Linked DNA regions of Homo sapiens: region 2 is linked to region 1. Evidence: fine-mapped expression QTL. A gene starts in region 1. The other region holds a variant in brackets. All regions are shown on one strand. Distances are from middle to middle. Region 1 holds the start of INTS1 (integrator complex subunit 1). Region 2 overlaps MAD1L1 (mitotic arrest deficient 1 like 1).

What was found.
Region 2: its variant is fine-mapped to the expression of INTS1 in monocytes after interferon gamma (Fairfax 2014, PIP 0.95).

Annotation. Positions count from the first base shown.
Region 1 is chr7:1,495,975-1,511,881 of GRCh38, reverse strand. It overlaps INTS1 (integrator complex subunit 1), which reads left to right and starts at 7,493. Exons shown (of 48, transcript NM_001080453.3): 1 at 7,493-7,559; 2 at 7,881-7,979; 3 at 8,691-8,981; 4 at 11,516-11,712; 5 at 11,861-11,998; 6 at 12,250-12,409; 7 at 12,522-12,627; 8 at 12,721-12,907; 9 at 13,030-13,175; 10 at 13,329-13,470; 11 at 14,568-14,744; 12 at 15,618-15,726. The coding sequence starts at 7,922. RefSeq lists silencers at 999-1,048, 7,288-7,847 and enhancers at 5,209-5,804, 5,990-6,179, 5,805-6,401.
Region 2 is chr7:1,818,092-1,833,998 of GRCh38, reverse strand. All of the region lies in intron 18 of MAD1L1 (mitotic arrest deficient 1 like 1), which reads left to right. Among named protein-coding and RNA genes, the nearest start is that of MIR4655, 18 kb to the left of the region's middle. The variant CAGG/G (reference allele first, on the strand shown) is at 6,270.

The DNA.
Region 1 (15,907 bases):
GAGAGGGGCATGTTTGTGTTATAGGAGACCCTGGAGCTGGCCTGAGGGGCCCTGGGAGGGAGCCCACAAAGAAGGGGCCGTGAGTGCACAATCTGGGGAAGGGGCAATGGAAGCCGGAGGTTTGAGGGGTGGGCCCAGAGGACAGGCGGGCAGACCCAGCAGGGGTGGTTTTCACTGCGGGAGGAGAGAAGTGGGGAGGGCCTGAGATCCGAAGCAGGTCACAGGAGACATGTTGGGGGTATGGGCCTCCCAGAGTCCTTCCCCTTCCTCACGGCTCCCGATTCTCTTTGTTGGTTCACCTCTCTCCTGTGCAGCCTGGGGGTGGAACCGGGACTGGCCCCCGCTCTTTGAAGCCAAAGGGTCTGAGCTCTTCCCCGGTAGACCAGGTACCCTGAGTCACGGCACAGTGGTCAGCGAGGTCCAAGCTCTCCCCAGTAGACCAGCCGTCCTGAGTTTCAATGTGGTGCCCAGCGAGGTCTGAGCTCTCCCCGAGGAAACCAGCCATCCTGAGTCTCAGTGCGGTGGCCAGTGAAGGCTGAGCTCTCACCAGGTTGGCCAGCTGTCCCGAGTCTCAGTGTAGTGGCCAGTGGCCTGACCGGTCCTTGGGATACCTGGAATTCTGGACGTGGGTCTGTCTTTGGGGCTGCACCCTATGGGAGCCCCATACAAGGTTGGGGTTCCAGCCAGGGGGTGGTAGAGAAAGTGGGCGCCCAGGTTCCTAGCAGGGGCTAGCCTGGGGGTGGATGGGGAAGGAAGGCTTCAGGGAGGTTCAGGGAGGAGCCGGGGCTGGGCCCCCAGGATGGGGGTCACTTGAGAAGAGCCGCAGGTTCCCCACAAGGGCCCCTGTGTGTAACGGGAAGGCCAGGCCTGGTCTGCGCTGGGTACGCTTGGTCCAGGAAGGGAGGCTGGAGCCCCCGGTCTAGGCCCAGGCTGCACAGAGAGCGGCAGCTGCTTCCTGGCACGAGGCAGTTAAACCACACGCAGCTGCAGGCTGCCCACCGCACCCGTCTCCCCTCGGGCCCGACCCGGGCCTCTGCTCCCCCTGCCCCCACCCTGCCAGCCGCCCCCAGCCCCTGGTGCTGGTGGGTCTTGGGGGGCCGCAGTGGTGCCCTGGAGCCCAAACCTGCCACACTGATCAGGTCACGAGGTTGGGTCCTGCTAGGACAGGGTCACCTTTGGTACTCACTGCACTCTGGGGTCACAGCAAAGAGGACCCCGGGATGGTGGGAGTCAGAGGCTTGGGCTTGCCTGCCCGACGGCGTCCCTCCAGGCTGAGGCCCAGCTCTCCTAACAGCCTAGGCTTTTAGCACTGGCTTCCTCCCCCCAGAGAATTCACAGTTATCACTTACCTGTCCACGGGCTCTCACTGAACATGGCGAGCCACCCTGGACCCAGCAGGGGACTGGGCAGATCAGGCTCTGCTGGTGGCTCTGTCAGGCAGGAAGGCAGGGAAAAGACCAGCCAGGGGTGGGCGTGCACCTGTGGTCCCAGCTACTTGGGAGGCTGAGGCAGGAGGATCGCTTGAGCCCAGGAATTTGAGGCTGCAGTAAACCATGATCACACCACTGCATTCCAGCTGGGTAACAGAGCAAGACCCCGTTTCTAAAACATTTTTTTAAAAGACATGAAGGAAGGGCCAGGCGCGGTGGCTCATGCCTATAATCCCAGCACTTTGGGAGGTCGAGGTGGGTGGATCACCGGAGGTCAAGAGTTCAAGACCAGCCTGGCCAACATGGCAAAACCCCATCTCTACTAAAAATATAAAAATTAGCTGGATGTGGCTGAACGTGGTGGCTCACGCCTGTAATCCCAGCACTTTGGGAGGCCGAGGCAGGCAGATCACCTGAGGTCAGGGGTTTGAGACCAGCCTGGCCAGCATGGTGAAACCCCATGTCTACTAAAAATACAAAAATTAGCTGGGCATGGTGGCAGGCGCCTGCAATCCCAGCTCCTGATGGGGGCTGAGGCAGAATTGCTTGAACCCAGGAGGTGGAGGTTGCAATGGGCAGAGATCACACCACTGCACTCCAGCCTGGGCGACAGAGCAAGACTCTCAGAAAAAAAAAAAAAAAAGCCAGGCGTGGTGGCAGGTGCCTGTAATCCCAGCTACTTGGGAGGCTGAGGCAGGAGAATCGCTTGAACCCCAGAGGCGGAGGTTGCAGTGGTCTGAGATTGAACCACTGCACTCCAGCCTGGGTGGCAGAGTGAGACTCCGTCTCAAAAAAAAAAAAAAAAAAAAAAGACATGAAGGTGACATCCAGGTGCAGGGGACTGGGGCATCAGTGACTGACCAGAGAAGGAGGCCACTTGAGCAAAGACCAGAATGGGGTGGACAGGGAGTCCCAGGACCAGCTGGGGGGTTTCTGGGCACAGGAAACAGCGCATGGAAAGGCAGGCACCTTCCGGAAACAGTGAGAAGGCTGAGGTGCGGGGTGGGGCGGCATCGGGGGAGGTGAGACGGAGATGTAGACCCTGCAGGACCCGGCAGTCCTCGGCGTGGGGCTGGGACGGGGCGAACAGTGGCCCCATAGCCCACGTCCACCGGAGCCACAGGATGGGAGCTTATTTGCAAACAAGGTCTTTGCAGATATAAACTTATTTTTTTATTTTATTTTTTTTGAGATGGAGTCTTGCTCTGTCGCCTAGGCTGGAGTGCAATGGTGCGATCTTGGCTCGCTGCAGCCTCCATCTCTCAGGTTCAAGTGATTCTCGTGCCTCAGCCTCCGGAGTAGCTGGGACTACAGGCACCTGCCACCACGCCCGGCTATTTTTTTGTATTTTTAGTAGAGATGGGGTTTCACTGTGTTATCCAGGATGGTCTCGATCTCCTGACCTCGTGATCCGCCCGCCTCAGCCTCCCAAAGTGCTGGGATTACAGGTGTGAGCCACTGCGCCCGGCCTTGGATAATTTTTTTCTATTTTTAGTAAAGGCAAGGTTTCGCCATGTTGGCCAGGCTGGTCTCGAACTCCTGACCTCAAGCAATCCGCCCGCCTCAACCTCCCCAAGTGCTGGGATGACAGGCGTGAGCCACCGCACAGGCCTAATGAAGGTAAAGATCTTGAGATGAGATCATCCTTGATCTGGGTGGGCCCTAAATCCCTTAACAGATGTCCTCACGAGGCACAGAGACACAGAGAGAAGACGGCCACATGGAGTCAGAGGCAGAGGCTGGAGGGATGTGGCCACGAGCCGAGGACCCCTGGAGTCCCCAGGAGCTGGTCGAGGTAGGCAGCGTCCTCCCCTAGAGCCCTCCGAGGGAGTCAGCCCTGCCCACACTTTGACTTCAGACTTCTGGGCTCCAGAACTGCAAGAGAGGACATTTCTGTGGCTTTAAGCCACCGAGTCTGTGGTGCTTTGTTAAGAGCTGCTGTGGGAAACAACCACAGGTGTTCATTTTACTGTTCGGGTGATAAGCAGAGTCTTTGGAGAATTCTGAGCAGGGGAGGAACATTTGATTATATCTTTTTGTTTTTTTGTTTTTTTTGAGATGGAATCTCGCTCTGTTGGCCAGACTGGAGTGCAGTGGTACGATCTTGGCTCACTGCCACCTCCACCTCCTGGGTTCAAGTGATTCTCCTGCCTCAGCCTCCCAAGTAGCTGGGACTAAAGGCACCCGCCACCACGCCTGGCTAATTTTTGTATTTTTAGTAGACATGGGGTTTACTATGTTGGCCAAGCTGGTCTCAAACTCCTGATCTCAGGTGATCCGCCTGCCTCAGCCTCCCAAAGTGCTGGGATTAAAAGCCACGGCACCCGGCCTAAAAATTAAATTTCTAATAATTTTTTTTTTTTTGAGACAGAGTCTCACTCTTGTCGCCCAGGCTGGAGGGCAATGGCATGATCTTGGTTCACTGCAACCTCCGCCTCCCACGTTCAAGTGATTCTCCTGCCTCAGCCTCCCAAGTAGCTGGATTACAGGTGTCTGCTACCATGCCCGGCTAATTTTTGTATTTTTGTAGAGACCGGGTTCCACCATGTTGGGCAGGCTGGTCTTGAACTCCTGACCTCAGGTGATCCACCCGCCTCGGCTTCCCAAAGTGCTGGGATTACAGGCGTGAGCCATCGCGCCTGGCCATAAAAAATATTTTCAAAAAGTGAGCAAACAATTTGAACAGACACCAATAATGCAGATACACGGATGACAAAAAAAGATGAGAAAACGCTCATCATTACTCATCAGGGAGACGCCGATGAAGAGCACAGGGCAGACCCTGCACACCCCCCCAGGATGACGGAACGCCTGTGGTCCTGCCCGGGCCATCAGTGGAGAAGCCATCCTTGGAATCTGGAATCCATCTGGCGGGTGCTACTCAGCAGCTGACAGAAGCCACCGATGCCTGCAACGCTGGGGTAAGTCTCAGAATAATGATGCCAGGCCGGGCGCGGTGGCTCACGCCTGTAATCCCAGCACTTTGGGAAGCCGAGGCGGGAGGATCACGAGGTCAGGAGATCAAGACCGTTGTGGCTAACACGGTGAAATCCCGCCTCTACTAAAAATACAAAAAAAAAAAAAAATTAGCCGGGCGTGGTGGCCAGCGCCTGTAGTCCCAGCTACTCGGGAGGCTGAGGCAGGAGAATGGCGTGAACCCAGGAGGCAGAGGTTGCAGTGAACGGAGATCGCGCCACTGCACTCCAGCCTGGGTGACAGAACGAGATTCCATCTCAAAAAAAAAAAAAGAATAATGACGCCGAGCAGCTGGCCAGGGAGCGTGCACTGTGTGCTTTCATTCACACAGACTCCAGAAGAGCAAACAGCGCCTCTCCAGGGACAGAAAGTGGCGCCCTGGCGGCCTGGGGACAAGTCAGGGGTGGTTTGGGAATGTTCGTTACAGGGTTGAAAGGGATGGGGGATGGGGCCACAGGTACGTGTGAATGTCAACACGCATCAGTGTGCACCCTTTACACCCTTTACACACCTGCAGTTTATCAGACGTCAATCATAACTCAAAAAAGCTGTTTTCAAAAAGAGGCGGGGAGAGGGAGGAGGAAGGCAAAGAGGTAGAGGAGGGGGAGGAAGAGGAAGAGGGGAAGGAGACGGAGGAGAAAGAGAAGAGGGAGGAGGAGGTGGTCAAGGTTGACTCCTGAGTTTTTAGAGAACGAGGAAGACGAGGAGCAGGAGGAGAGAGAAGGGGGAAGAGGTGGTCAAGGTTGACAGGAGGAGGAGGAGGAGGAGGAGGAGGAGGGGGAGGAGGGGAGGAGGGGGAGGAGGAGAAGAAGGGGAACGAAGGGGAGGGGGGAGGGGGAGGAGGGGGAGGGGAAGGAGGGGAGGGGGAGGGGGAGGAGGAGAGGAGGGGGGAGGGGGAGGAGGGGGAGAAGAAGGAAGGGGAGGAGGGGGAGGAGGAGGGGGAGGGGGAGGGGGAGGGGGAGGAGGAGGTAGTTGTTCTCAAGGTCGACCCTGAGGTTCTGGCCTGGGCCCGGGTGAGGGCATTTGCCGAAGGCACAGGCCCCGCATGCAGGGGCGGTGATGCTGGTCAGAGGATGAGGAGAGGCAGGTGGCGGGGCAGAGGAAGCTCTGTGCAGGGTGCTCCCATTCAGGTGACAGGAGGAGGAAGCATTACCCCATCGGATCTCCCCTCCCCTTAGAGAGTTACCCTGAGGGACAGATTGAGAAACTGTAGAGGGATGAAGCCGCACAGCCCCCGCCTGGCGTCCGGCAGGGATCCGCGCCTGACCGGCCTCTCCTCCCATGGGCACCACGGACGTCTCCTTCCGGACTCGCTGCCCACACAGCGCAGGGTGCAGGGCCCTGGAGCCCTTGGGGTCCTGCGGGGACCCAGCTGGTGCCCACAGGAGTGGAAAGAGACCGTGGCGGGTCACACAGCAGTTCTCAGGCTGCAGCCTGGGGCCATGAGCCTCACTGAGGCCACAGTCAAATGGCCACACCCAACTTCAGGGGCACAGGGAGACCAGCTCTGCCTTGCGGTCCCTGGATGAGGAGATGGGACACACCGGGCAGGCGGTGCTCAGGACTCCCTCGGTGGCGGGGCAGCGTTCGAGTCAGTGCCCTGCTGGGAACAGATCTCCAAGATGTGGTTAAGTGGCAAAAGCCAGGTGCAGAAAAGAGGAGCCGTGCGCTACCTGCAGGGTGACAAGGCAGAGGGAGGCACACGGGTGGCTGCCTGAACGCACACGGAAAAGCCGGGAACACAGGCACAAATCAGAACACAGGCTGACTCCAGGGGAGGGGACCAGCTGCTCAGGGGTCAGGGGAGACCTTCGACCCTTTGACTGGATGATTCCCCCACCTTTTATTTTTATTTTTTTTTAGACAGGGTCTCGCTCTGTCGGCCGGCTGCAGCGTAGTGGCACCATCATAGCTTACTGCAGCCTTGACCTCCCAAGCTGAAGAGATCCTCCTACCTCAGCCTCCTCAGTAGCTGGGACCGTAGGCATGCACCACCATGCCTGGCTAATTTATTCTTGATTTTTGTTTGTAGAGATAGGGTCTCACTATGTTGCCCAGGCTGGTCTCAGACTCCCACTTTGGCCTCCCAAAGGGCTGGGATTAGAGGTTCATGCCACCATGCCCAGCTAATTTTTATTTTTTTGTAGAGATGGGGGTCTTGCTATGTTGCTCAGGCTGGTCTCGAACTCAACCGATCCTCCTGCCTTGGTCTCCCAAAGTGCTGAGATTACAGGCATGAGCATCACACCTGGCAACTGTATGATCTTTTGTGTCTTTTGAGTTTTGTTCCCATCAGTGTTTCCATTAAAAAAAAAAAAAAAAAGGCGTGGGGGCGGGGCGGGCGCAGTAATTCCAGCACTTTGGGAGGCCAAGGCGGGCGGACCACCTGAGGTCAGGAGTTCGAGACCAGCCTGGCCAACATGGTGAAACCCCGTCTCTACTAAAAACACAAAAAAATTAGCCAGACATGGTGGCGGGCGCCTGTAATCCCAGCTACTCGGGAGACTGAGGCAGGAGAATCGCTTGAACCTGGGAGGTGGAGGTTGCAATAAGCCGAGGTCGCGCCACTGCATTCCAGCCTGGGCGACAGAGCGAGACTCCGTGCCAAAAAAAAAAAGAAAAAAGAAAAGGGTGAACTTTGTGGAACACGAGTTCTATCTCAATAAAGCTATTATTATTATTATTATTATTATTTGAGACAGGGTCTCTCCCCGGGAGCCCCCCGGGCTGCGCCCCCTCGCCAGTGCCTGCGCCCCGGCCGCCCCCGCTCTCCGGGACGTGCAGAACCTGCCACTTGACTCATCCGCGGATCCCTGACGCCACTCCTCCCCGCCGTGCGTCCTGGAGTGCGTCCCTTCGCAACGCCAGCACCACCTGTGAATGGAGAGGCCAGCGCCTGCCCCGCGCCGCCGACCCACCTGGACCGGACCACATGCGCGCGGCGCCGGCCAGCCCGCCTCCCGCCGCCATGGGGCGCTGCAGGCATCAGGCCGGCGCCGCGGGCCTCTCGCGCCTCCTTCTGGGCCCGCTTCCCGCCGCACTGTTTTCCTTCCGGTTGTTCCGGAAGTCGGGTCCTCGAGGGCGGTGAGATCGGTTTCCGATTCCGGGGTGGCCGGGTGGCGGCGGCGGCGCTCCGGTCGCGATGGGCCAGAGGTAAGTGAGCCGCGGCCTGGGCGCTTCCTCATTGCCGGGCGAGCGCCTGGTTCTCCCGGCTACCGCTCCCGGCCTCTGGGCCGTCCCTTCTGGTTCTGCCGCCTCCAGCCCGGCGTCCGCGTCGCCTGCTGCCGCCCGACTGAGCCGCTCCCGGGCGGCTGGGAGGCGGGGTCCCTGCAGCTCCTGCAGCATCGCCCCGCCGGGCGGGCGCGGGACCACTGTCCCCGGGTCCCAGGCCCAAGCCCCGTGCGGCAAGGGAGCGAATGAGCGAGCGAACGAGCGAATGAGTGAAGGAATGACCGCACGCTGGCTCCTCCGCAGGTGACGCCGCAGCCGCCGGGAGCCGCGAGGGACGGGGCAGGATGAACCGGGCCAAGCCCACCACGGTGCGCCGGCCCAGCGCCGCGGCCAAACCCTCAGGTGCGTCTCCCTCCTCGCTCTGCAGCCCGGGGGTCTTTGGGGGTCTTTGGGGGTCTTTGGGGATCTCAGCTGCCGCGGATCCTGCGTTGGGCTTGGTTGTTCCGCAGCCGCGGCTGTTTCCAGGAATTCGGTCTGGAAACACTGCTCTCGGTCCTCAGCGGCTCTGAGAGTCCCTGGGAGGCTTGGGACAGTGGCGACTTCCTTCGGGACCCCGGTGATCTCGTTTCAGGCTGAGCTGCAAGGCGGCCGACAGTAGCGGAAGGTCTCCCCAGCCAGGAGGCGGGAGGCAGCACAGTGTAGCGTAGCACGGGGTCTGCGGCTGAACTGTCGGCTCAGATCCTCCGGACTTTGCCACTCGCCTGCTGTGTGACGCTGGGCACGTCGCTTAACCTCTCTGTGTCCCTTTCTCTCTTGTAAAGTTAGAGTAATAGCACCTATTGCGGAAACTCGGGGCGGGGGTTACTAAGCACACTAATTTGGATAGACCAGAGATGGCCTGGTTTGTGGTTAGCGCTACGTGACTGTCCACCATCACCTGTGCGTATCCTGCTGGTCCCAGCTCTGCTGTAGGCTGCTGAGTGAGCTCTGGCTTCTTCCTTGCCTCCTCTGACCCTTGTTTAATCCCCTCTGACATAACAGGAGGTTAGAGTCAGTCTTTTTCCATCTTGGGTGTTGCAAATGTGCCCGGTTTTCTCTCTCCTTTCTCTGCAGGGCACCCTCCCCCAGGAGACTTCATTGCTCTGGGCTCAAAGGGTCAGGCCAATGAATCGAAAACGGCGTCCACCCTGCTGAAGCCAGCCCCTTCCGGCCTGCCTTCTGAGCGCAAGCGGGATGCGGCGGCCGCGTTGTCCAGTGCCTCGGCCCTCACCGGTCTCACCAAACGCCCCAAACTCTCCTCCACACCCCCTCTGAGTGCCCTGGGGCGCCTGGCTGAGGCTGCAGTGGCAGAAAAACGAGCCATTTCTCCGTCGATTAAAGAGCCATCTGTGGTGCCAATTGAAGGTAATGAGTCTGTGGACATCCCCCGAGAACACCCCTCAGCTCATGCCGTCCATCAGGTGTTCAGGGAAGGCCCCCTCCAGGCCTAGTGCTGCCCGTATGGCCGAGGTCCTTTGGGAGAGCGGATGTTTGTGGCTTGTTCTTGGAAGTGCTTCTCACGTAGATGCCCTTATCCCGTGTGTGCATCTGCGTCCTGCACTGCCAGTGGCTGCCCTTTGAGAACCGGGTCACTCCCTTATTGAGTTGTTTGTCTCATGTGTCTGTTGGACGCCCCCTTTGTGACGGGCACTGTCTGAGCCCTGGGGGTAAACCGGGCGTGACGACACCCCAGGTGTCTGTTCTCAAGGTTGCCCATCCTGGTGCGTTCCTCTCTCAACCTGAGCGGAGGCGATGTGTACTTGGTTCCTCCTTCCCTCCTGGTTACCAACAGAGAAGAGTTGATCCCCTCCCTGTTTTCAGTTGAAAAGCAGCAGAACAGTAAGGACATCAACGGGGGAATGTAAGCTTCACCACTGTCCCGTTCTCGCAGAAATGCCTTTAACTGTGTGCCTAGAATCGCCCCTGCCCCTCTGCGCCATTTTCCCAACGACCATTTCTCAAGGCTCCGTGACTCCCTGGGAGTCGCTCTGGCAGCTATCGCACCAGCCCCAGCAAGCCTCATGGTCTGCAGTGTTTTGTTTCTGTGGGAGCATCTCTTTTGGGTAATTTCTTTGTAGGAGTCAAAAAGAACAAGTGTCCTGATGACTTTGGTAGTGAGGTGTCTGTTCAAGCCGCGCCACCTCTGGTTACTGAGTTTTGTGCCAGACAGGACCCAGGGGACTTGTGGGCTGTGGCCTTGCCCTCAGGGAGGGACCAGGCTGCTGCAGTGCAAGCCTGTGAGTGAGTCCCCGACGGCCCTGGAAGGGAGGAGGCCTGGCAGGGAGTTGCAGTATGGGCTTGGGCCTGGAAGCACAGGCGATGAAACCGGGGCAGGCAGGAAAGGGAGATGCCAAGCAGAGAATGGACTGTGCCCAGGGAATGGAGGCCTGGCCTGGCCTGGGCAGCACACGCTCATGAGAGCTGAGGCTGGGCGCTGTGGGCAGTGTTTGTGCTGGACTCAGTTGGCATCAGGGAGCCCTGGGGGCAAACGGCCCAGGATGGCACAGCTGGGGGACTGCTTTAGGAGGTCGAGCCTCAGACCTCCCATGAGGCGTGTCCCTGGGCAGCTGGTGCCGGTGGGGATTGAAGACAGAGACCACAGGCCTCATCCTGGCCCGGGCTCTCGGCCGCCGGCGGCTCGGTGCTTTATTTATCTTTAGCACTACCTCCTGTAGAAAGGAGGTTTTGAAGATGAGAGGAGACGTGGTTATGAAAAGCGTATTCTGAGTGGTAGATCACTTTATAGTATTATTCTCAGCAAAACAGAGAGATGGCTGCATCCAGCCATTTGTGGTAAATGTCCCAGGCTGTCCCTCCATGCTGGCAGCCCACTTGTCCCCCAGCTTGTCTCGGCATCAGGAAATTTATTCCAAGTCTCTGTCCCGGGCGCAGTTAAGGTAGATCACAATGCCTCTGTCCACATGTGTGTGGATATGTATTTACTTATTATTTATTATTTATTTATTTATTTATTTTTTTTTGAGACAGAGTCTCGCTGTGTTCCCCAGGCTGGAATGCAGTGGCACGATCTCGGCTCACTTCAGCCTCCGCCTCCCGGGTTCACATGATTCTCCTGCCTTAGCCTCCCAAGCAGCTGGGATTACAGGCATGCACCACCACGCCTGGCTAATTTGTGTATTTCTAGTAGAGACAGGGTTTCACTGTATTGGCCAGGCTGGTCTCGATTTCCTGACCTCAGGTGATCCACCTGCCTCAGCCTCCCAAAGTGGTGGGATTACAGGTGCTAGCCACTGCACCTGGCCGTTTGTGGATATTTAAAAACACAGTCCTAAAAAACTGTTGGGACAGAGAAGAATCAGAATGAAAATGAGAAAACCTCCGATCCAACAGTGGCAAACACGACGATAGGAAAGGTGTGTGCTGGCCCTGGTGCTCCTCAGAGGATGTGGGAGGGTCAGGCACTCGTCTGGAGGAAGGTTGTGAGCCGAGCACCCATGGAAAGAGGGAGGAAAAGTGGGAAGAAGGGCATGCTGGAGACTGGAGCTGGGGTGGGTGCGGAGAGAGGGCCACTGTGCTGCGGTCCACAGTGAGAAAGAAGCCGCCAGACGGAGCCACGATTCAGTGGAAAGTAAAGCTGCAGGTGGCCTGGCTTGCTGGGAAATGTCTGTAGCCTTTGGGGTAGTCGTGTGGGACACAGCGGAGCCAGGACTGGAGTGGCTGGTGGGCTAGTGCTGAGGCCTGTGGGGCAGCCTGTTGTATTAAGGGGACCATCTGGTGGGGTGCTTGTCCGCTGTGGGAACTTTGCTGAGGGTGGATCGCTGGTCCCTGGCAGGGCCGACCCTGAGAGCTCTGGGTTCCTCGTGGTCTTCCCGGTGTCCCGAGGCTTTGGGGTGACCCTGCCCTGGCCCCGTTCTGACCGTACCGCCTGCCCCGGCCAGTGCTGCCCACGGTGCTGCTGGATGAGATCGAGGCGGCCGAGCTGGAGGGCAACGATGACAGGATCGAGGGCGTGCTGTGCGGGGCCGTGAAGCAGCTGAAGGTCACCCGCGCCAAGCCTGACAGCACCCTCTACCTGAGCCTCATGTACCTGGCCAAGATCAAGCCCAACATCTTCGCCACTGAGGGCGTCATTGAGGTTTGAGCCGGGCCCCTGGCAGGAGGCGAGCAGCGCTGGGGCCCTTGGCTCCCCTCCTCACCTCCCCCTTAAGTGTCCCTCCCGGCCCACCCCAGCTTTGCCTCTGGGGCCAGCGAAGCTCCCACGTGACATGCGCCCTCCCTGGCAGGCTCTGTGTAGCCTCCTGCGGCGGGACGCCTCCATCAACTTCAAGGCCAAGGGGAACAGCCTGGTGTCTGTGCTGGCCTGTAACCTCCTCATGGCCGCCTACGAGGAGGACGAGAACTGGCCCGAGATCTTTGTCAAGGTGAGCGTCCTCTCCCGGGACGGTGAAGATGGCAGAGCGCCACGGGGTGGGGCAGGGGCGAGAGAAAAGCAGAAGTGTGTTCTCTCCAGAGGGCTGTGTCTGACAGCCCTGGTGGTGATGGCACGGTCCCTGCTGCACCCAGAAGCTGGAGAGGGCCGCCTGGGCACCCAGTCCCCGGGCAGCAGGCGGGTGTTCCCCAACCTGGCTGCTGCCCGGCTGGGCTCGGGGCTGAGGGTGTGGCTGCCACACAGGTGTACATCGAGGACTCCCTGGGGGAGCGGATCTGGGTGGACAGCCCTCACTGTAAGACGTTTGTGGACAACATCCAGACGGCCTTCAACACCAGAATGCCCCCCAGGAGCGTGCTGCTGCAGGGGGAGGCGGGCCGCGTTGCGGGCGACCTGGGTGCAGGTGAGACACACGGCCAGCCAGAGAGGGCGGGTGTCCAAGCCCCAGGGCAGGGGAGGGGTGGGAGGATGGGCGGGTGGGAGGCGCTGCATGGAGCCCTCTCCTTGGTTTGCAGGGAGCAGCCCACACCCCTCCCTCACGGAGGAGGAGGACAGCCAGACGGAGTTGCTGATCGCGGAGGAGAAGCTGAGCCCCGAGCAGGAGGGCCAGCTCATGCCCAGGTAGCTGCGTGCCTGCCCGGTCCCAGTTGGGGGCGGCGGGGGCGGGCGCCTCGGGGCCACCTTCCTCCCTCCTCGCTCCCTCCTCTGGCCTAGGTACGAAGAGCTCGCGGAGAGCGTGGAGGAGTATGTCCTGGACATGCTGCGGGACCAGCTGAACCGGCGCCAGCCCATCGACAACGTCTCCAGGAACCTCCTGCGGCTCCTCACCTCCACCTGCGGCTATAAGGAGGTGCGGCTGCTGGCGGTGCAGAAGCTGGAGATGTGGCTGCAGAACCCCAAGGTGCGGGGGCGCCCCGGGGGGGTGGGCGGGGCAGGGGGTGGGGGCAGGCTCTGTGTGGCCCCACAGCGTGGTCTTCCTGCCGGGGTGGCCGTGAGCCCACTGCTCCCTCCTCGGCCCCGCAGCTGACCCGGCCGGCCCAGGACCTGCTGATGTCCGTCTGCATGAACTGCAACACGCACGGTTCCGAAGACATGGACGTCATCTCACACCTGATCAAGATCCGCCTCAAGCCCAAGGTCCTCCTCAACCACTTCATGCTGTGCATCAGGTGCGTGGCGAGCCGGGGCAGAGCGGGGGTGCGGGTGGAGTGGGGGTGTGGGTGGGGGTGTGGGCGGAGCGGGGGTGCGGGCGGAGTGGGGGCACAGGCGGAGTGGGGGCACAGGCGTAGCGGGGACAGGGTCTGTACCCTCACCTCACCCAGGGAGCTGCTGAGCGCGCACAAGGACAACCTGGGCACCACCATCAAGTTGGTGATCTTCAATGAGCTCTCCAGCGCCCGGAACCCGAACAACATGCAGGTCCTCTATACCGCACTGCAGCACAGCTCAGAGCTGGCGCCCAAGGTAGGCCCAGGGTCCCTGGCCTTGCCCTCCACGCCGGAATATGGGGCTCTGGGCTGGAGGGGCACGTGGCGTCTGGGGAGGCCGGTGGATTGGCAGTGCTTCGTGGGAGAATGCTCCTCGGTCTCGGGAAGGAGCTTTTGAAACTCACGTGGGCATGAGGTTGAGCCGTTTCTAGAGTGGGTGCAGCCACAGCGCCCAGCGTCTTTCTCAGAAACTGACACTCTGTCCATTTAGGAGGGAGCCACATTGAGTCTTAAAAGCCACCCAGGTTTCTGAGCTAAGACCCAGACCTGTTGCCTTCTGTTTTTATTTTTCAAGCTCATTCCTGCCTTTGGATAGTAAGGTAGTTTTTAAAAATTTTGTGGAGACCGGGTCTTATTATGTGGCCCAGGCTGGTCTCAAACTCCTGGGCTCAAGCGATCCTCCTGCCTCAACCTCCCAAAGTGCTGGGATGACAGGCATGAGCCCCTGTGCCTGGCCCAGACCCGCCTCCTGTGCATTGGGTCCCTCGGTTAAGCAGGGGTCCCTGTAGCCCTGGCTGTAGGACCCTTGGATTTCCGTGTCTCCTTTGAAGCGGGCTCGGGAGATGCTCCCATCGCCACCAGCGCATTAGGCCTCCCGGTGGGCTCTATGGAGTGTGAAACACGAGGGAGGCACAGCCGCTCTCAGCTCCGCGTTCAGTCTTCGCGGCCTGGCATTTTGAGACAGGAGTGCGTCCTTTCAGATCCTTTCAGATCTTGGGTGGTGGCCTTTGGTTTCCGTTCAGCCCGTGGCGCACGGGTGGGCTGAGATGGCACACGCGCTTCTATGGCTTTGCCGCCTGGTGTCCCGCACCCCCAGCTTCCGTTAATTAATCCTCCTCATTTCACGAGGACCGACTCCCCACCTGCCGGTTCTCAGAGAGGGGAATCAGATGTGATCCCTGCTCGCCAAGGGCTGGCAGCCAGTAGAGCAAGGAGCCCGCCACCCCGCACCCCACACTGTCTGAGACCCACTGCAGCGCCCTCGGGCGCCATACCTGTTGGTGCTGCGGGAAGGGGCCTGTGACAGGGACAGCACTGTCGGGCAGCCTCCCACGCGGCCTCTCTCTGCCCCAGTTCCTGGCCATGGTGTTCCAGGACCTGCTGACCAACAAGGACGACTACCTGCGGGCCTCGCGGGCCCTGCTGCGGGAGATCATCAAGCAGACCAAGCACGAGATCAACTTCCAGGCCTTCTGCCTGGGGCTCATGCAGGAGCGCAAGGAGCCGCAGTACCTGGAGATGGAGTTCAAGGTGCCAGCCCTCGCCGCTGGGGCGCCTTTCCCTCACTGCGGGTTCCACGCGCCGCCATCCCCCTCGTCCTGGGTCCCATGCACACTCCACCCCTTCGGATGCTCTGGCTGAGCGTGGGTACGGGGATGAGTGAGGCTGTTTGCGGTGACGCGTCCCAGAGGGTAGCATAGGCTCTGTCCTGTGTGAGGACCTATGAGGGGCTGACCAAGCACAGGGGAACTGGCAACCCCTAGGCTGGATGGGATGAATTGCTGCCGGCAGCAAGGGGAGCACGGGAGCAGGGAGGCAGGGTGGGGCTGCGGGCTGCCTGGCTGGGTTGGAGACTTTTCGAGGGCTGTGGAGGGAGCTGGCGCTGGAAGGCACAGTGAGGGTGGATCACAGAGATGCCAGGTCCCTGCAGCCAACTCGCAGCCAGCCTGCCGGGGTGGCCTGTTTTGCGGACGGGGCTTTGTGGATCTCTGTTGACTGAACCTCCCTCCTGTGGCCAGACTAGGACCTTGTGGGCCACCGGCCCTGGTGCCCCTCCTGTCAGGCCCCTCTCCCAACTGGTCCTGGGCTCTCTCTCTGGATCCCTGCTTGTGTGTGTGTATGTGTGCGCATGTGCAAGTGTGTGCGTGCTGCACCCACGTGTTTGTGGAGTGGGGCTCCCGGGTGTCCCTTCTGGATACAGACCCCGTGCCGCGCCCACGTGGGTGTGGAGTGGGGCTCCCGGGTGTCCCTTCTGGATACAGACCCCGTGCCGCGCCCACGTGGGTGTGGAGTGGGGCTCCCGGGTGTCCCTTCTGGATACAGACCCCGTGCCGCGCCCACGTGGGTGTGGAGTGGGGCTCCCGGGTGTCCCTTCTGGATACAGACCCCGTGCTGCACCTGCAGGAGCGCTTCGTGGTGCACATCACCGACGTCCTGGCCGTGTCCATGATGCTGGGCATCACAGCGCAGGTGAAGGAGGCCGGCATCGCCTGGGACAAAGGAGAAAAGAGGAGTAAGGATGTGGGGGTGGCCTGGCCCTGCTTGGTGGGGGTCTCGGGTCCAGGCTGGTGGCTGGCGGCTCTCCGAGGCTGCACTGTCCCCTGAGCGCCCGGCAGGAGCGGTCCCGCAGCACGGCTACTCGGGGACACGGAGCCTGGAAGCTGCCGTCCCCGTTCCTGTCCATCCGGGCCTCA
Region 2 (15,907 bases), 320 kb before region 1:
ATTATTGTCAGAGAACATTCTCGGAACGGTCTAAATCCTTCTACTTTTTTTGGAGACGGAGTCTCATTCTGTCACCCAGGCTGGAGTGCATGGCGCAATCTCAGCTCACTGCAACCTCTGCCTTCCAGGTTCAAGTGATTCTCCTGCCTCCTACCTCAGCCTCCCGAGTAACTGGGATTACAGGCACGTGCCACCACGCCTGGCTAATTTTTGTATTTTTAGTAGAGAGGGGGTTTCACCATGTTGGCCAGGCTGGTCTCGAACTCCTGATCTCAGGTGATCCACCTGCCTCGGCCTCCCAAAGTGCTGGGATTACAGGCGTGAGCCACTGCATCTGGTCACATTTCTTGAAATTTGTTTTAAGGTCCATCCAGAATGTTACTGCCTTGGTAAATGTTGTGTGTGTACTTGAAATCTGTGTGTATCCTGTATCCTGCTGGAATGTGCTATATCGATGTCAAGTAGCTGACATTTTTAATAATGTTTGCGAAGCTTTTATATCCTTGCCAATTTTCTGTCTTCCTGTTCTATCAGTTATTGATAGATGAATATTGACATCTCTGACTATTATTACAGATTTCTCTATTCCTTCTTGCATTCCAGTTTTTGTTTCATATATAAATGGACGCTTTTATCATTATGAAATGACCTTTATTGCTAGTAATATTCTTTGCTCTGAAATCTGCTTTGTTTGATACAGAGTTGCACTGTCAGTAAGCAACCTTGGGTATATCACGCATTTGGTTCCAGATCACTGTGATTAAACCAATATCACAATAAAGCAAGTGCCATGCATTTTGTTTCCCAGTGCATATAAAAGTTATGTTTATCCTATGCTATAGTCTGTCAAGTGTACAATAGCATTATGTCTTTAAAAAACAATGTACATGTTCTGATTTTAAAAATACTTTATTGCTTAAAAATGCTAATGATCACCCGAACCTTTAGCCAGTTGTAATCTCTTTGCTGGTGGAGGTTCTTGCTTTGATGGTGATGGCTGCTGACAGATCAGGGTGGTGGTTGCTGAAGGTTGGGGTGGCTGTGACAGTTTCTTAAAAACACCAGTGGGCTGGGTGCTGTGGCTCAAGCCTGTAATCCCAGCACTTTGGGAGGCTGAGGCAAGTGGATCACTTGAGGCCAGTAGTTCGAGACCAGCCTGGCCAACATGGTGAAACCCTGTCTCTACTACAAACACAAAAATTAGCCGGGCATGGTGGCACGTACCTGTAATCCCAGCTACTTGGGAGGCTGAGGCATGAAAATCGCTTGAACCTGGGAGGTGGAGGTTGCAGTGAGCTGAGATCACATCACTGCACTCCAGCCTGGGCAACAGAGCACGACTCCATCCCCACCCCCCCCCCCCCCGCCAAAAAAAAAAAAACACAGCAATGAAGCTGGCCACATTGATTGACTCTTCCTTTCATGAAAGATTTCTCTGTAGCATGCAATGCTCTCTAAAACCATTTTACCTACAGTAGAACTTCTTTCTATCTTGGAGCCAAGCCTCTCAACCCCTCAAACTGCTTTATCAACTAAGTTGATGTACTTTGCTGTCATTTTTCAACAATGTTCACAGCATTTTCACCAGGAGCAGATTCCATCTCAAGAAACCACTTTCTTTGTTCATTCATAAGCAGCAGCTCCTCATCCATTCAAGCTTGATCATGAGATTGCAGCAGTTTAGTCACATCTTCAGGCTCTGCTTCTAATTCTAATTCTCTTGCTATTTTCACCACATCTGTCCATCTTCCTCCACTGACCTCTTCTTGAACCAAGTCATCCATGAGGGTTGGAACCAACTTCTGCAAACTCCTGTTAATGGTGATACTTTGACCTCCTCTCATAAATCACTGATGTTCTTAATGGCATCTAGAATGACAGCTCCTTTCCAGAAGGTTTTCAGTTGACTTTGCCCAGATTCATTAGAGGAAGCACTCTGTGACAACTATAGCCTTAGAAAATGTATTTCTTAAATAATAACACTTGAAAGTCAATTGTCCCTTGATCTAGGGGCCACAGGATGGATGCTGTGTTAGCAGTCATAGAAACAACGTTCATCTCCATCAGAGCCCAGTAACTAGTTGCATTGTCAGTGAGCAATAATATTTTGAAAGGAATTTTGTTTTCTGAGCAGGAGGTCTCAACAGTGGGCTTAAAATATTCAGTGCACTGTGCTACGTTTGAACAGATGTGCTGTCATCCAGGCTTTGTTGTTCCACTGATAGAGCACAGACAGAGAAGACTTAGCATCATTCTTAAGGGCCCCAAGAGCTCATTTACCGTCTCCATATTAGCAGTAAGCCTGTTCTGCTTTCTTATCATTCATGTGTTCGTTGGAATAGCCCTTGTGATTTCCTTTACGAACTTCTCCTTTGCAGGCTAGCTGTGTGGTGCAAGAGACCTAGCTTTTGGCCTCAGTTTTCAACATGCCTTCCTCACTAAACCTAATTATCTCTAGCTTTTGATTTAAAGTGAGAGACATGTGAGTCTTCTTTCACTTGAACACCTAGAAGCCATTCTAGGGTTATTAATGGGCCTGGTTTCAATATTGTTGTGACGGTCGTGTCTCAGGAAATGGGGAGGCCTAAGGAGAAGGAGAGAGATGGGGGATGGCTGGTCAGTGGAGCAGTCAGAACACACACATTTATCAGTTAAGTTTGCTCTCTTATGGGCACTGTTTGTGGAGCTCCGAAACCATTACAATGGTGACATCAAAGATCACAGATGACAGAGTACCATAAAAGATATACTAGTAATGAAAAAGTTGGAAATATATACGACACAGACATGAAGTGAATCCACGCTTTTGGAAAAATAGTGCCAATAGACTTGCCAGACACAGACCTTAAACTTGTAAAAAATGCAGTGTCTGTGAGGCACAGTCAGGCCACGGATGAAGCGAGGTGTGCTCATGTGAACACAGGGCGAATTGGCTTCTGTGAGCACGCTGTATCTGCTTCACGTTACTTTTAATCTACTGCGTCTTCATAGTTAAAATGTGCTTCTTAAAAGCAGGATATAGCTGAGTCTTAAATATGCATAGAATCTGACATTCTCTGCCTTTTCACTGGGCCATTTACATTTAAATTGATTACTACTTTGATTAGATAAGTCTATCATCTTGTTATTTGTTTTCTGTTTGTCCTGTCTGTCCTTTGTTCTTTTTTCTTCCCTCTTTTTCTGCCTTTCTTGGATTGAATTTTTTACAAGTTCATGTGCCTCCTTTTTTGATTTGTTAACTGTATTTTTTACAGGTTGTGTTAGGATTTAGGGCACGTAGATCTTTAACAGTCATCCTCGAATGATACGACACCGCCTTATGTGTAGTGTGAGAACCTGACAGTCACATACTTCCAGTCTTCTCCTTCCTGCCTTAGTCATCTGCTTATAATATATTTTATTTATGCACATGATAAACCCCACAATACTTTGTTTTTATTTCTGTTTAGTCAGCTATCTTTGAAAGAGATGTAAATAATAATTGTAAATGTTGTATATGTCTGCCCATGCAGCTCCCACCCCTCATTCATGGAAGGAGTAGAGCTGTTCTTCCTTCTTCTTGTGTAGGCCCATGTTTGTTTTTATTTTTATTTATTTTTTTTGAGACAGAGTCTCACTCTGTCGCCCAGGCTGGAGTGCAGTGGCACGATCTCGGCTCACTGCAACCTCCGCCTCCCAGGTTAAAGCGATTCTCCTGCCTCAGCCTCCCGAGTAGCTGGGATTACAGGGATGTGCCACTGCACGTGGCCAATTTTTGTATTTTTAGTAGAAACAGGGTTTCACCATGTTGGCCAGGCTGGTCTTGAACTCCTGACCTCAGGTGATCCTCCCACCTCGGCCTCCCACAGTGCTGGGATTACAGGCGTGAGCCACCGGCCTGGCCTGTTGTGTAAGCCCCTGTTTGCATCCTCATTTTCCTTCTGTCTGAAGGGCTTCCTTTAATATTCTTGCAGTGTGAATCAGCTGCTTTTTGGGATATTTTAAGCTCTTGCACACCTGAAGAAGTCTTTATTTGGGGGGAGATATTTCCACTGGGTGGAGAATTCTGGGCTTTGTCTTTCTGTACTTTACAGAGGTGATCTCACTGTCTTCTTAATTCCAGTATTTCCTCTGAGAAGTCTGCTGTCATTCTCATCTTTGTTCCTCTGTCGGTCAGTTGTCATTTCTTCCTCTGACTGCTTTTAAGATTTCATCTGTACTACTGGTTTTGAGCAGTTTGATTATGATGTACTTTGTGTACTTTAATGTTGTTTCCTCCCCCTGCCTTTTTTTTTTTTTTTGGTGGTTGGGGTTCTTTGAACTTCTCAGATCTCTCAGTTTACACTTTTCCACACATTTCAGAAAATTGGGGCCACTACTTTTTCAAGACTCTTTGCTGTCCCCACCACTGGCAACCAGTCCTTGAATAACATCGCTGCAGAACTCACTGGCTCGTGGCTTCTGGGGTCAGGAATCCAAGTGTGGCTGAGCTGGCTCTCTGCTCAGAGACCTCACCAGCCACAGTCCTCTTGGCTCTGCTGGGGAAGGTCCCACGTCCAGGTACACCCATGTGGCCGTCGGAAGGATTCTGCTTCTATCCGTGGTTGGGCTGCCGCGCTTGGTCCTATGGCAGCTCCTCGCCGTGTGGGCCGCTCACGCATGGCAGCTGGCGGGTCAGAGCTCTGAGAACCAGGGTGGGAGCCGCAGAAGTCACGGCTGCTGTGACGTGACTGCAGAGGGGAAGCCAGCACTTGCGCCCCACTTTGCATCCGCTGTAAGTCACGCTGAAGGGCTGGCGCTGATGCGGGTGGTGCCTGGAGGTGGGGACCATCAGGAGCCATTTCAGAAGTGCCACCAGCCTGCCTCCAGGACTCCTGCCCTACGTGTCAGGCCATGTGACGTCGCCCCACAGCCCACGCCCAATGTGCTGCCTCCTTTATGTCTGTCTTTCCGTTTTTTCCTTTTTGTTTGTATGCGCTTTTCTTTCTTTTTCTCATCTGTTTCATCTCGGACGGTTTCCGTGGTTGTATCTGCAGCTTCACTGATCCTGTTTTCGCCATGTCTGATCTGGCATGGATCCGTCCCCCGTACTTGTTGTCTTCATCCTTAGAAGGTCAATTTGGCTCTTTTTTGTCCCTTTTATGTCTATCCTCAATTTTTTGGGCATATGGAGCAAAGTTACAGTGACTTAATGTGATCTGCCGCTTCTGACGTCAGGTCAGCCCTAGGTCTGTTTCACTCAGCTGATTTTCTCTTTGTTGAGTGCTGCGAGGCTGTGTGTGCATGTGTGCGTGTGCCTGTGCATGCACGTGTGTGTGTGTTCCTATAAATATTCGTGAGCTCTGTTCGGAGACACAGTTCAGGTACTTGGAAACAGCCTGGTTCTCTGGGTCTCGGTTTAGGAAATGTGAGGTGGGAGCAGGGCAGCGTCTGTCTGGGGCTCACACCGCCCCTTGCTGCGGGGTGTCCATCTCAGTGCTGTGCCCTGGAGCCGCCTAGTTCGCAGGCTTTCCCGCGAGGCTGCCGGAGACAGGCACTGGTCCAGCCCAGTGTGAGCTTCGGGTGCCATTTTCTGGGTTTTTCTCTCTAATGCTCCAGGTTTTCTCAGCCTCTCACTGAGCACTCCAGCGAACTCAGCCCTCCTCTGTGGCACTCTTTTCGGCGCCCTGGCTCCAGCTCCAGCCCTGTCCCTCAACTCGGGTCCCGCGAGGCCCTGCCTGGGCTGTGACTGTCTCCCCAGGCTCGCCCCGTCTCTCAGGGCCCGCCACCCTTCCTGACTGAAAACTGTTGTTTCACATTTGATGCCTCATATTCTGGCTGTTTCAGATGGCAGGTGCATCTGTCCTTGTGGCTCTGTCTCGGCCGGAAGCTGCCGGCCGCCCTCTGAGGTGGGAAAATAGGCATTTTGTCTCCATTTTACATTCAGGAAACTTCAGCTCAGAGAGACAAACTGATGGGCCCCGGGGCCCACAGCACATAAGAGGGGCAGCCTCACAGGAGGGCGGGCCTGCATCTCCGGCCCTCCTCACCCCGCATCCCCAGCATCACATTGCCCTAAGCGTGGCGCTCCACGAAACGTCACTGCCAGCAGCATGGGCCTCGCCTGGGTGGGAGGTGAGAAGGCGCAGAGGCCGCTGACGTCCTCTCCTGTTCTCATTCGGCTACATCTGGAAAGGGTGGTGCTGTCTAGCCCGGGCCCAGGAGGGGAGGACCCCACACCCGGGACGGGCTCAGGAGGGGAGGACCCCACACCCGGGACGGGCTCAGGAGGGGAGGACCCCACAGCCACG[CAGG/G]GCTCAGGAGGGGAGGCCCCCACACCCGGGACGGGCTCAGGAGGGGAGGCCCCCACACCCGGGCCGGGCTCAGGAGGGGAGGCCCCCACACCCGGGCGGGGCTCAGGAGGGGAGGACCCCACACCCGGGACGGGCTCAGGAGGGGAGGATGCCACACCCGGGACGGGCTCAGGAGGGGAGGCCCCCACACCCGGGACGGGCTCAGGAGGGGAGGACCCCACACCCGGGACGGGCTCAGGAGGGGAGGCCCCCACACCCGCGACGGGCTCAGGAGGGGAGGACCCCACACCCGCGACGGGCTCAGGAGGGGAGGACCCCACACCTGGGCGGGGCTCAGGGAGCCACTGGGCGAGGGCTGTGCTGCAGCTCCTCCCTCCTCACCCGTGTGCCTGATCTGAGCACCTGTCCTCCCTGCCCGCTGCGTCCCCTTTCTTCCCTTAACCTTCATTGTGTTCTGTGCTCCTGCTGCCCTCGGGGCCAGTCCCTGTCTTTTAACCCACACTCAGCCCCTTCTCCCACCTTCTCCATCCCCGCCACCTCCTCTAACTCATCCCTGTGGCCTCCATGCCCTTCCACGGCCCTTGGAGCCGCCCGTGGCGGATGCCACTCACAGCAGGGGCTGCGCAGGCCGCCCCACCCCGAGCCGGCGCCCCCACTCCCTCGGCTCCCCTCCGGCTGCGGCTGCAGGAGCAGCTGCGTGTGGCTGTAAAGCAGAACGCCCGTGTGCGAGGGGGAGCTGTATAAATAGAATAATAATAATAATAATTGTTGGTTTGGGATTTTTCTGCGACTGCTGGGGTGCCTGGCCTTGCCCGCCCCGCCAGTCACTCTTGAAGGAAAGGTCACCCTCGCCGGGAAGATAAACCCCAATAACGCTGGTATAATTAGCACAGGCAGTATTTAGATGCTTTCCTCGGTACAATTAGGCAGGAATAATTGGCTGAGCTATTTTCCCCGTGCCGGACACACTTTTTGCCAGCTTCCGTTCTTTGGAACTTCATGCCGGGACATTTGTTCTCGGCGTTCTGTCCAAGCTGTCCTGACCCAGTTGCCGCCAGGCCCTCAGCGCGGTGCTCACGCGGCAGCATCTGCGAGGCCTCTTTTGGGCCCGGCTGTGTCGTCTCCCCCGAGGGACGCCGGAGGGACAGTGGGGCAGAGAGGGGTGGGAGCTGAGGGTCGTGCACACAGCAGGGTGTCCTGGGGTCAAACCTGGACCTCTGGACCAGGAGCTCCGCGGAGCTGAGCTGGGCTGGGCCTGGAGCTGGAGGGCTTGTGCAGGGTGGGGCTGGGCCGGCCATGGGCATCCATGAGGGAGTGAGGCCATGAGCGGGGGAGTCAGGCATAGGCTGTAACAAGTCCTGTGGCCAGCCTGGAGGAGGAGGCCCTCGGCCGAGGTAATACACCAGCAGCGAGAAGCTTGCTCTCTCCCTCCTCAGAGCGCGGACGGGCCAGGCAGTGACTGTCAGGGCTCGGTGGTGGCTGCTGCTCCTGGATCACCTTCGGGCCGTGGATGTGCAGCAGGCAGGCTGGCCCCACAGCACCTGAGACTCCTGTGCAGAGCCCAGCTGTGAGTTGTGAGGCTGCCAGGAGTCCTCGGTATCCCGGTCTAACAGGTTGCGTAGACCACGGTAGCACCAGCCATTTTCACGCTGTACCCGGCAGGCTCAGCACGGTCTTGACGTTATCACGCCTGAACTTTGGGATACAGATCACTGCTGCCGAGGTCATGAAGCCAAGCTGGGGCCGCGCCGACCTCCAACCCTGGGGCTGGGACCGTGCTGGCCTCCAACCCCGCCTGGGGCTGGGACTGTGCCGACCGCCAACCCTGGGGCTGGGACTGTGCTCATCCCAGGGCTGGGACTATGCTGACCTCCAACCCCGGGGCTGGGACTGTGCTGACCTCTAACCCCCAGCAGCACCTGCTGGGATGAGAGCACACATTACCCAGGTTTATCACCTCTGGACCCTGATGCCATGGTCCAAGGCCTTCAGCCCCTGAGACGTTTTAGGGAAGGGAGGGCAGCCCTGGCCGTGGAGGCTCGTGCAGAGCTGTGTGCATGGTGAGACTGCCCAGCACTGTTCACAGGCGCTCAGACGGGCACCGCAAAGACCCGTGGACAGAGCTGTGCCCCACCTGGGATTTGCACAAGCCCAACCTGGGTGCCCTGGCCGCTGGGTGCCGAGGGGCTTGGGCCCGTGTCTCTCACACCTCAGCAGCAGCCCTATGACAGGTAGCCTCAGCGGACTCTGCTGTGGCCACCTGACCAGCGCCACCCACCCCAACCAGCTGGCTGGGCTCACGCTGTGACCCACGCCTGGCGTCTGTGGTGCCACCAGCCAAGATGCCAGCCATGACGCCAGCCTGGCACCCCAGGCCCAGGACATCTGGGGCAGGTGGGTGGGCAGCACCGGCCTCAGCAGCCCACAGAGGGGCCTCCCACAGAGTGTCTGGAGACACTCCAGGCAGACGGGCAGATGAGCAAGACGCCCGAGGGTTGCAGGCCAGGTGGATAAGGATTGGGGCTTGCATGTGTCCGCAGTGGGGAACCCGTGTGCTCAGCGGCCTGTCTTGAAGCTGTTCCGCTCTTGCAGATATAATTTAGATATACATTTTTCCTAATTACAAATATGCAGCATATAAAAAAATCTGGAAAATGCAGAGAACCATGAGTCACTTTCCGTCCCAGCACTCCGAGTTAACCGCCATTAACATTTTGATTTTCTAAGAGTCCTTTTGCACTCTGTGAGTGTGGGTGTGAGAGTGTGTGTCGTGCTGCAGTGTGAACTTGAAGGGTTTTCTCACCCCTGAAGTTCAGGGCTGACTCTCGGCGGACGCTGCTGAGTCTTCTCCCCGGCTCGCCCCATGTGTGCATGAAAGTGCCTGGGACGCGTCAGATTCTCAACTTGAGACGCCCGGAGAGTCTTTTGAAGTTGAAAACACTTTGATTTCCTGACAGCCTCAAGACAAAAAAAAATCTCCCCTTCGCTGGCTTTGAGAGCAGGTGTATTCTACAAGCGAGGTTCACAGGGACCTATGGCTGCCCCGGCAGATGCCATCCAGGCACGCCCCTCTCCTCTCCCGCGGGTCCTGGTGGGGGAGCCTCTGTGGGAAGCCTGGGGGCTCCGGGGCCTGGCAGACAACCAGTCCTGCTGCAGCGAGGTGGGGACAAGGCCGGGAGCAGCTCACTTCCCAGTAGAGGCCATCCGATGGCGCCAGGGCACGGGGCAGCTGCTGTCCTCATGGCCCGGGGTAACGTGGGCACAGGGTTTCCTCATCCCACTGTGCTCTGTGTCTCCCCTGAGCCCGGTGATTTTACGCACCTGACTTCGTTAGTCTTCTCGGCAATGCCCAGCGTGCAGACCAGGCTCAAGAGAGGTGTGTCGGTGTGCCCAGGGTCACGCAGCTTCCTGGTGGCCAAGCCGAGGTTAGAAGCTAGTTCTGGTGGGTGCGAAAGCCCCCGATGTCGGCAGCTCTGCCACCAGGCCCGCACAAGCAGGTGGTGTAAGAGGGGAGGCGTTGGGGCCGGCAGTGCTCAAGTCAGGATTGAGCCGTCTATCTGGAAGGTCTGTTGAGGGTGTGTGCTGGTGGCCGGGAGGTGGTGGCAGGCTGACTACCTGCCATTTTCCTGCAGTGCCTAGGCCCAGGAGAGGGAGCAGCCCCCGGTCAGGACCCAGCTGCAGGACACCCCATCCTCATGGACCTTGCTTCCCGCTCTCCGTCCCCCCACAAATGGGCTCCCAGCATAACTTCCCCCGAGGGCTCCTTTCCTCTCCCCACACAGAGCCCTGCTCCGGAGCGGCGCTTGCAGCACACCAATGACAGGAGGATTGGGCTTCAGGGAAGCAGGCGCCTGGAGCTGTGTCCAGTTAGGTGCGTGGCGCTTGCAGATCCAAGCATGAAATATTCATGCCTCCCCCGGCCCAGCAGCTGCGGCTTCTCATCTGGAACAAGGGGGTGCTTCTCCCAGGAAGGCCAGTGGGAGCAGGGGTGTGTCTGAGAATGCCTGGGCGCTCTGCCCTCACGATGGCCGCTGATGCCACAGGCCCGGCCTCTGTGCCCAGGCCACTCTCCAGCCTGGTGAGGTCTGTTCTGGGAAAAGAGAGAAGCAAGACAGATGTGGGCCTTGCCCTGTGGGGCCAGGGCACAGGCAGGAATCCCACTTGGGGTTAAGACGCTGCAGTCACCCCTCCAGGTGCCAGGGTCCCCTGTGGCCGTGGCGTTCTAGGAGAGATGGGCAGGGAGACGCTGGCGCCCTGTCGTGTAGCTTATCCTTGTATCTGCTTCACAGGCTCTTCCACTGTGCAATTTCCTAAAATTTTGGCGAGGCCCATTTATCCATTTTAATTTTATTCTGTGGATTGTGCTTTGGTGTTGAGTGTCAGAGCTCTGCCTCATCCAGATCCTGAAGATTTCTTTTTTAACATAATTCTGTGTTTTACATGTAAGTTCGTGATACAGTTTGAGTTAAATTTTATTTGAGATGTGAGGTTTCGGTCAAAAAAATTTTTTTTTAACTAAGTGTGTCCAGCTCCTCCGGCTCCAGCTGTAGCAAAGACAAGGCTGCCCTTCCTCCACTGAAGCGCCTTTGTGACTTTTCTGTGACTTTTCCGTATCGATTAATAGGGTCATATGTTGTTTATTCTTTAGCCTGTTGATATAGCAGATTACATTGATTGATTTTCAAATACCAAGCTAGCCTCGTACACCTAAACGAAGTCCCACTTGGTCACGGCATAATATTCTCTGTTAGAAAGTGGCCTGGACGCGTCTGTGGGTCTCTTTCGAGTTCCTCTGTTCTGTTCTGCTGGTCTCCACATCTCCCCTCCAGCGCTGCCCCAGCCATGTCTGTCTGACGTAGGAGCCGTATAACGCTGTGCTGTAGCTGTACGGTTCTCAACATCAGGAAGGGCAATTCCTCTACTCTTCTTTTTTGGAATTGCTTTCTATATACATTTTAGAATAATCTTGTGTCTCTCTACCAAAAAAAAAAAAAAAAAATGCTGGCCGGGCATGGTGGCTCACGCCTGTAATCCCAACACTTGGGGAAGCCAAGGCAAAAGGATCGCTTGAGCCCAGGAGTTGGGAGACCAGCCTGGGCAACACAGGGAGACCCCATCTCTATGAAAAAAATACAGCCATGAGTGGTGGTGCGCACCTGTAGTTACAGCTACTTGGCACGTTGAGGCAGGAAGATTGCCTGAGGCTGCAGTGAGCCAAGACCACACCACTGCACTCCAGCCTGGGTGACAGAATAAGACCCTCTTTCCAAAAAAAAAAAAAAAATATATATATATATGCTGAGGTTTGGACAGCAATTACCTTAAAACCAAAGATCAATTTTGGAAAAATTGATTTACTATAAGTCTTCCAGTTCATAAACATTGTATCTATTTATACAAACATTCTTTTTATTCCTTTCGATTCCTTTCATCAGTATTTCCTAACTTTCTGCAAACAGACACTATACAAGTTTTTGTTAGATGTATACCCGAGTATTTAAGATGTTCTGTAAATTATATTGCCTTTTAATTTTGTTTTTCACTTGTTTGCAATTGCTTTATAGAAATGTGGTTAATTTTTGTATGTTCATCTTATTTCCTGCAACCTTCGTGGACTCACTTAGTGTTCCAGGAGTTTTCTGCAGATTGCTCAGGATTTTCCACGTGGGCCGTCACGTCATTCTAGGAGTTTTCTGCAGATTGCTTAGGGTTTTCCACGTGTGCCGTCATGTGATTTCCGAGTAGGGACAGTTCTGTTCTTTTCCAATCCCTATGCTGCTGCTTTCCTTTTCTTACCTGCATGCCCTGGCGTGAGGAGCTCCCATGCTGGGTTGAGGATGAGTGGGGAAAGCCAGCTCTCCGCTGACCGAATGAGGGAAGGCGGCCAGACTCTTCCGTGAAGCAGCGTGAGCTGAGGGTTCTTCGTGGTGCTTTTTACCAAGTCGGAGGACTTTCCCTTGATTCCTGCTTTGCAAGAGTTCTTGTCAGGAATGGAGATTAAATTTTTTCAAATGCTTTGCCTGTGCCAATAGGATCATATCATTGTCTTCCTTTAGCCTGTTGATAGGGTGGATAACATTGATTGATTTTCAAATTTGAACTAGCCGTCGTTGTACACCTAAACTGAATCCCACTTGGTCAGGGTGTGATACTCTTTTTCGTGTGTTGCTGGATTCCATTTGTTAGTCCTTGTTGAGTATTTTTGCAGCTAAGCTCATGAGAGACTGATACTTATTTTTCTTTGTGTGCGCACCATCCTTGTTGGTTTCAGTACAGGGTTCATAGTGGAAAGGTGTTTCTCTGTCTTTTGTTAACTGAAAAAGGATTGTGTAAAATTGGTATTAATTCATATTTAATGTTCGGTAAAACTTTCTAGTGAAACCATCTGGGACTGGAGATTTTGAGTAGCATTTTAATTAGAACAAACTTGATTTATTTAATGGTTATAGGACTACCGAGGCTATTTTATCTTGGCACGTTTTGGTAGTATGTGGTTTTCGAGGAATCCATCCAGTTTGTTATGAGCATCAAGTTTTGTTGTAGTATTTTTTATTGTTATTTTAATAGCTTCTGGATCTATTATAATATTTCCATTTCATTTCTGATATTGGTCATTTCACTCTCCCCCCCCCCTTTTTTTTTTTTTGAGATGGAGTCTCGCTGTGTTGCTCAGGCTGGAGTGCAGTGGCACGATCTCGGCTCACTGCAAGCTCCGCCTCCTGGGTTCATGCCATTCTCCTGCCTCAGCCTCCCAAGGAGCTGGGACTACAGGCACCCGCCACCACACCCGGCTAATTTTTTGTATTTTTAGTAGAGATGGGGTTTCACTGTGTTAGCCAGGATGGTCTTGATCTCCTGACCTCGTGATCCGCCCACCTCGGCCTCCCAAAGTGCTGGGATTACAGGCGTTCCCCCTTTTTAATCTTTGTCAGTTTTGCCAGGGGTTTATCAATTTATCGTTGCTGGTCTTTCTAACAAATTTTTGAGACAGGGTTTCACTCTGTTGCCCAGGCTGGAGTGCAGTGGTGTGATCATAGCTCACTACAGCCTCAAACTCCTAGGCCCACGTGATCCCACATACCTGGGGCTACAGGTGTATGCCACCACACCTGGCTGATTGATTATAGGGATGGGGTCTCACTGTGTTGTCCAGGCTGGTCTCAAACTCCAGGGCTCAAGTGATCCTCTCACCTTGGCCTCCCAAAGTGCAAAGATTACAGGTGTGAGCCCTGCTCCTGGCCGGCCTTATTGCTATTTTTTAAAGAAGCAGTTTTTGGTTTTAATAACTTTTGTTTTCCTGTTCATTCCTACTTGTATTATTTCCTCCTCCTGCTTCGGGCTTGTTTTTCCCTTCGTTTCTTGAAGTAGGAATTTAGAGAAGCGATTTGAGATCTTTCTCCTTTCCTGATACAGGCATTGAGTGCTGTCCGTTTCCCTCTAAGCACTGCCTTGGGTGCGTCTGGCAAATTTCATTATGCTGTATTCTTGTTTCCATTCTGTTCTCTTTTTTATTTCCTTCGAGGCATCCCATTTGACTCGTGGATTACTTAGAAGTGTGCTGTTTAATTTCCAGGCACTTACAGTTTTCCTGTTGTCTTTCTCTGACTGGTTTCTGGTTTTGATGTCCACTGGTGTGGCCTCCACCTCTTCACGCCACCCCACAGATGAACAGCATTCACATAACTTCCCAGTATCTCGAAGTAGCATCGTTTCCATTTCCTGCGTGTCTTCTCATTTTACTGCATTATTTCAGCTTTCCTTGTTTGAGCCAGGATTCAGGGCTTCCTTCATTCCATCTCTAGCTTCCTCCCCTCGAGTTTCCCAGTTCATGGAGTTTCTCTTGGACCCTCAGCAGCAGGGGGTCTTGTTCTTGACAGGAATCCCTCACACTTCCCCCTTGGCCTCCGAGCCCCACCACATCCTGCGGTTGGTGGTGTGTGGAGAAAGTGGTGTGTGGAGAGAGTTGGTGGTGTGCGCTGTCTCTGCTCTCCAAGCCCTTTGTCAGCCCCCACCCCTCCCTCACTCCGTGCCTCTTGTCCGTGCCCGCTGGGACACCATGGGGCTCGGCTCAGGGGATGGTGGGACCAGCGCTTAGTAAGACTAGTCAGCCCTAGGCACCGAGTGAGCACTGCTCACGTGGCAGAGCTGGAATGGGGGCCGGGCACACAATCCCTGGCCCACGTGTTCCACGGACATGCTGCAGAGGTCCCCGGCCCTCCAGGGCAGGCCCTCTCTGCTTCCAGAGGGGCAGGTGAGCCCCAGGCCAGGCCAGCGAGGGTCTGGACTAGAGTGCAGTGGCCACAATGGACGCCGCGAGTGTCTTCATTAAGAGTGAGTGTCTCAGTCTCCCCCAGGGCGCCCGCCAGCCACAGGGCCGCTATGTGCGCAGACTAGACAGGTGGCAGCTCGGGCCGGCCAGGCAGAGGGAGAGGAAGCCAGAGCCTGCGCGCAGGCAGCCTCAGAAGTATTTCCAGCCACAGCCAACGTGTCTTACTGGCAATTTGCTTTTTAAAAAATTGCAGTTTAATTTTAAGTGAGCAGCCCGTAATTACAGTGATTTACGAGGTACCTGGGGACTGTGTGATATTTGAACATGGCAGAGGGCTGAGCAGCGATGGCAGAGATGGATGGGCCCGGCGCCACTCATTCAGCAGGTCCTGCTAATGCCGGAGCGTTAGACCGAGGTGGAGCCTCCCAATGTGGCTGGGTACGCTGGGGGAAACGGAGTCAGAGGTGGGCTGCACAGCAGGTCGACTTGTTCACCGGGGGCTGGTGTTTTGCAAACGCTGGGTCTGCCTTCGTGTGGGGTTTGAGCTGGGAGAGTAGCACTGGTTACTCCTGCCTGTCTCCGTCCACCCCCACCCCCACCTGGAGGGCAGCGCGGTATATTAGGGCATCATTCTTCCAGAGCCGCCTGAGGCCGGCAGAGAGGAGGTGCTGTAGGAGCCGTGAGTGGGTTGCCCGGCCTACCATTGGGAGCAGCTGTCTTGCTGACGCTGGCGGGGTGCACCTGTTTCAAATAAAGAATGATCAGAGCTCACGCCTGTAATCCTCACGTCGTGGGCAGCTGAGGCAGGAGGATCACGTCAGGCCAGGAGTTTGAGACCAGCCAGGCCAGGAGTTTGAGACCAGCCTGGGCAAAATAGCTAAAGTCTATCTATCTCTCAAAAAAATTTAAAAATTAGCCAGGTGTGCTGGCACATGCCTGTCATTCCAACTGCTCAGGAGGCTGAGGTGGATCACTTGAGTCCGGGAGCTCGAGGCTGAGTGACCCGTTATCATGCCACTGCACTCCAGCCTGGGTGACAGAGTGAGACTCGTCTCTAAAAAAAAATATTTTTAGAAATGAACGGCCAGGCTCCCAAAGCCTGCCAGCCTCTGAGGGCCGGGGAAGGCGGGTGCCTGGAAAACAGCTATTCTCTGGTCCAGCCTGGCCAGAGTCTGCACCACAGTGCGTCAGGCCCAGCCAGGTTGCCAGCCCTGGGTTGGGAGGAGGGCGAAGGGCCGGCTGAGGAGACTTCTTCCCACACTGCCTCCCCACCCCTGCCCGGCAGCTGCAGGAGAATCAGCCCCTCTGACATTTAGGGGGAGAAATTCAGAATCAAGAGCAGAAGGCAGAAGTGAAAGGATTTTCT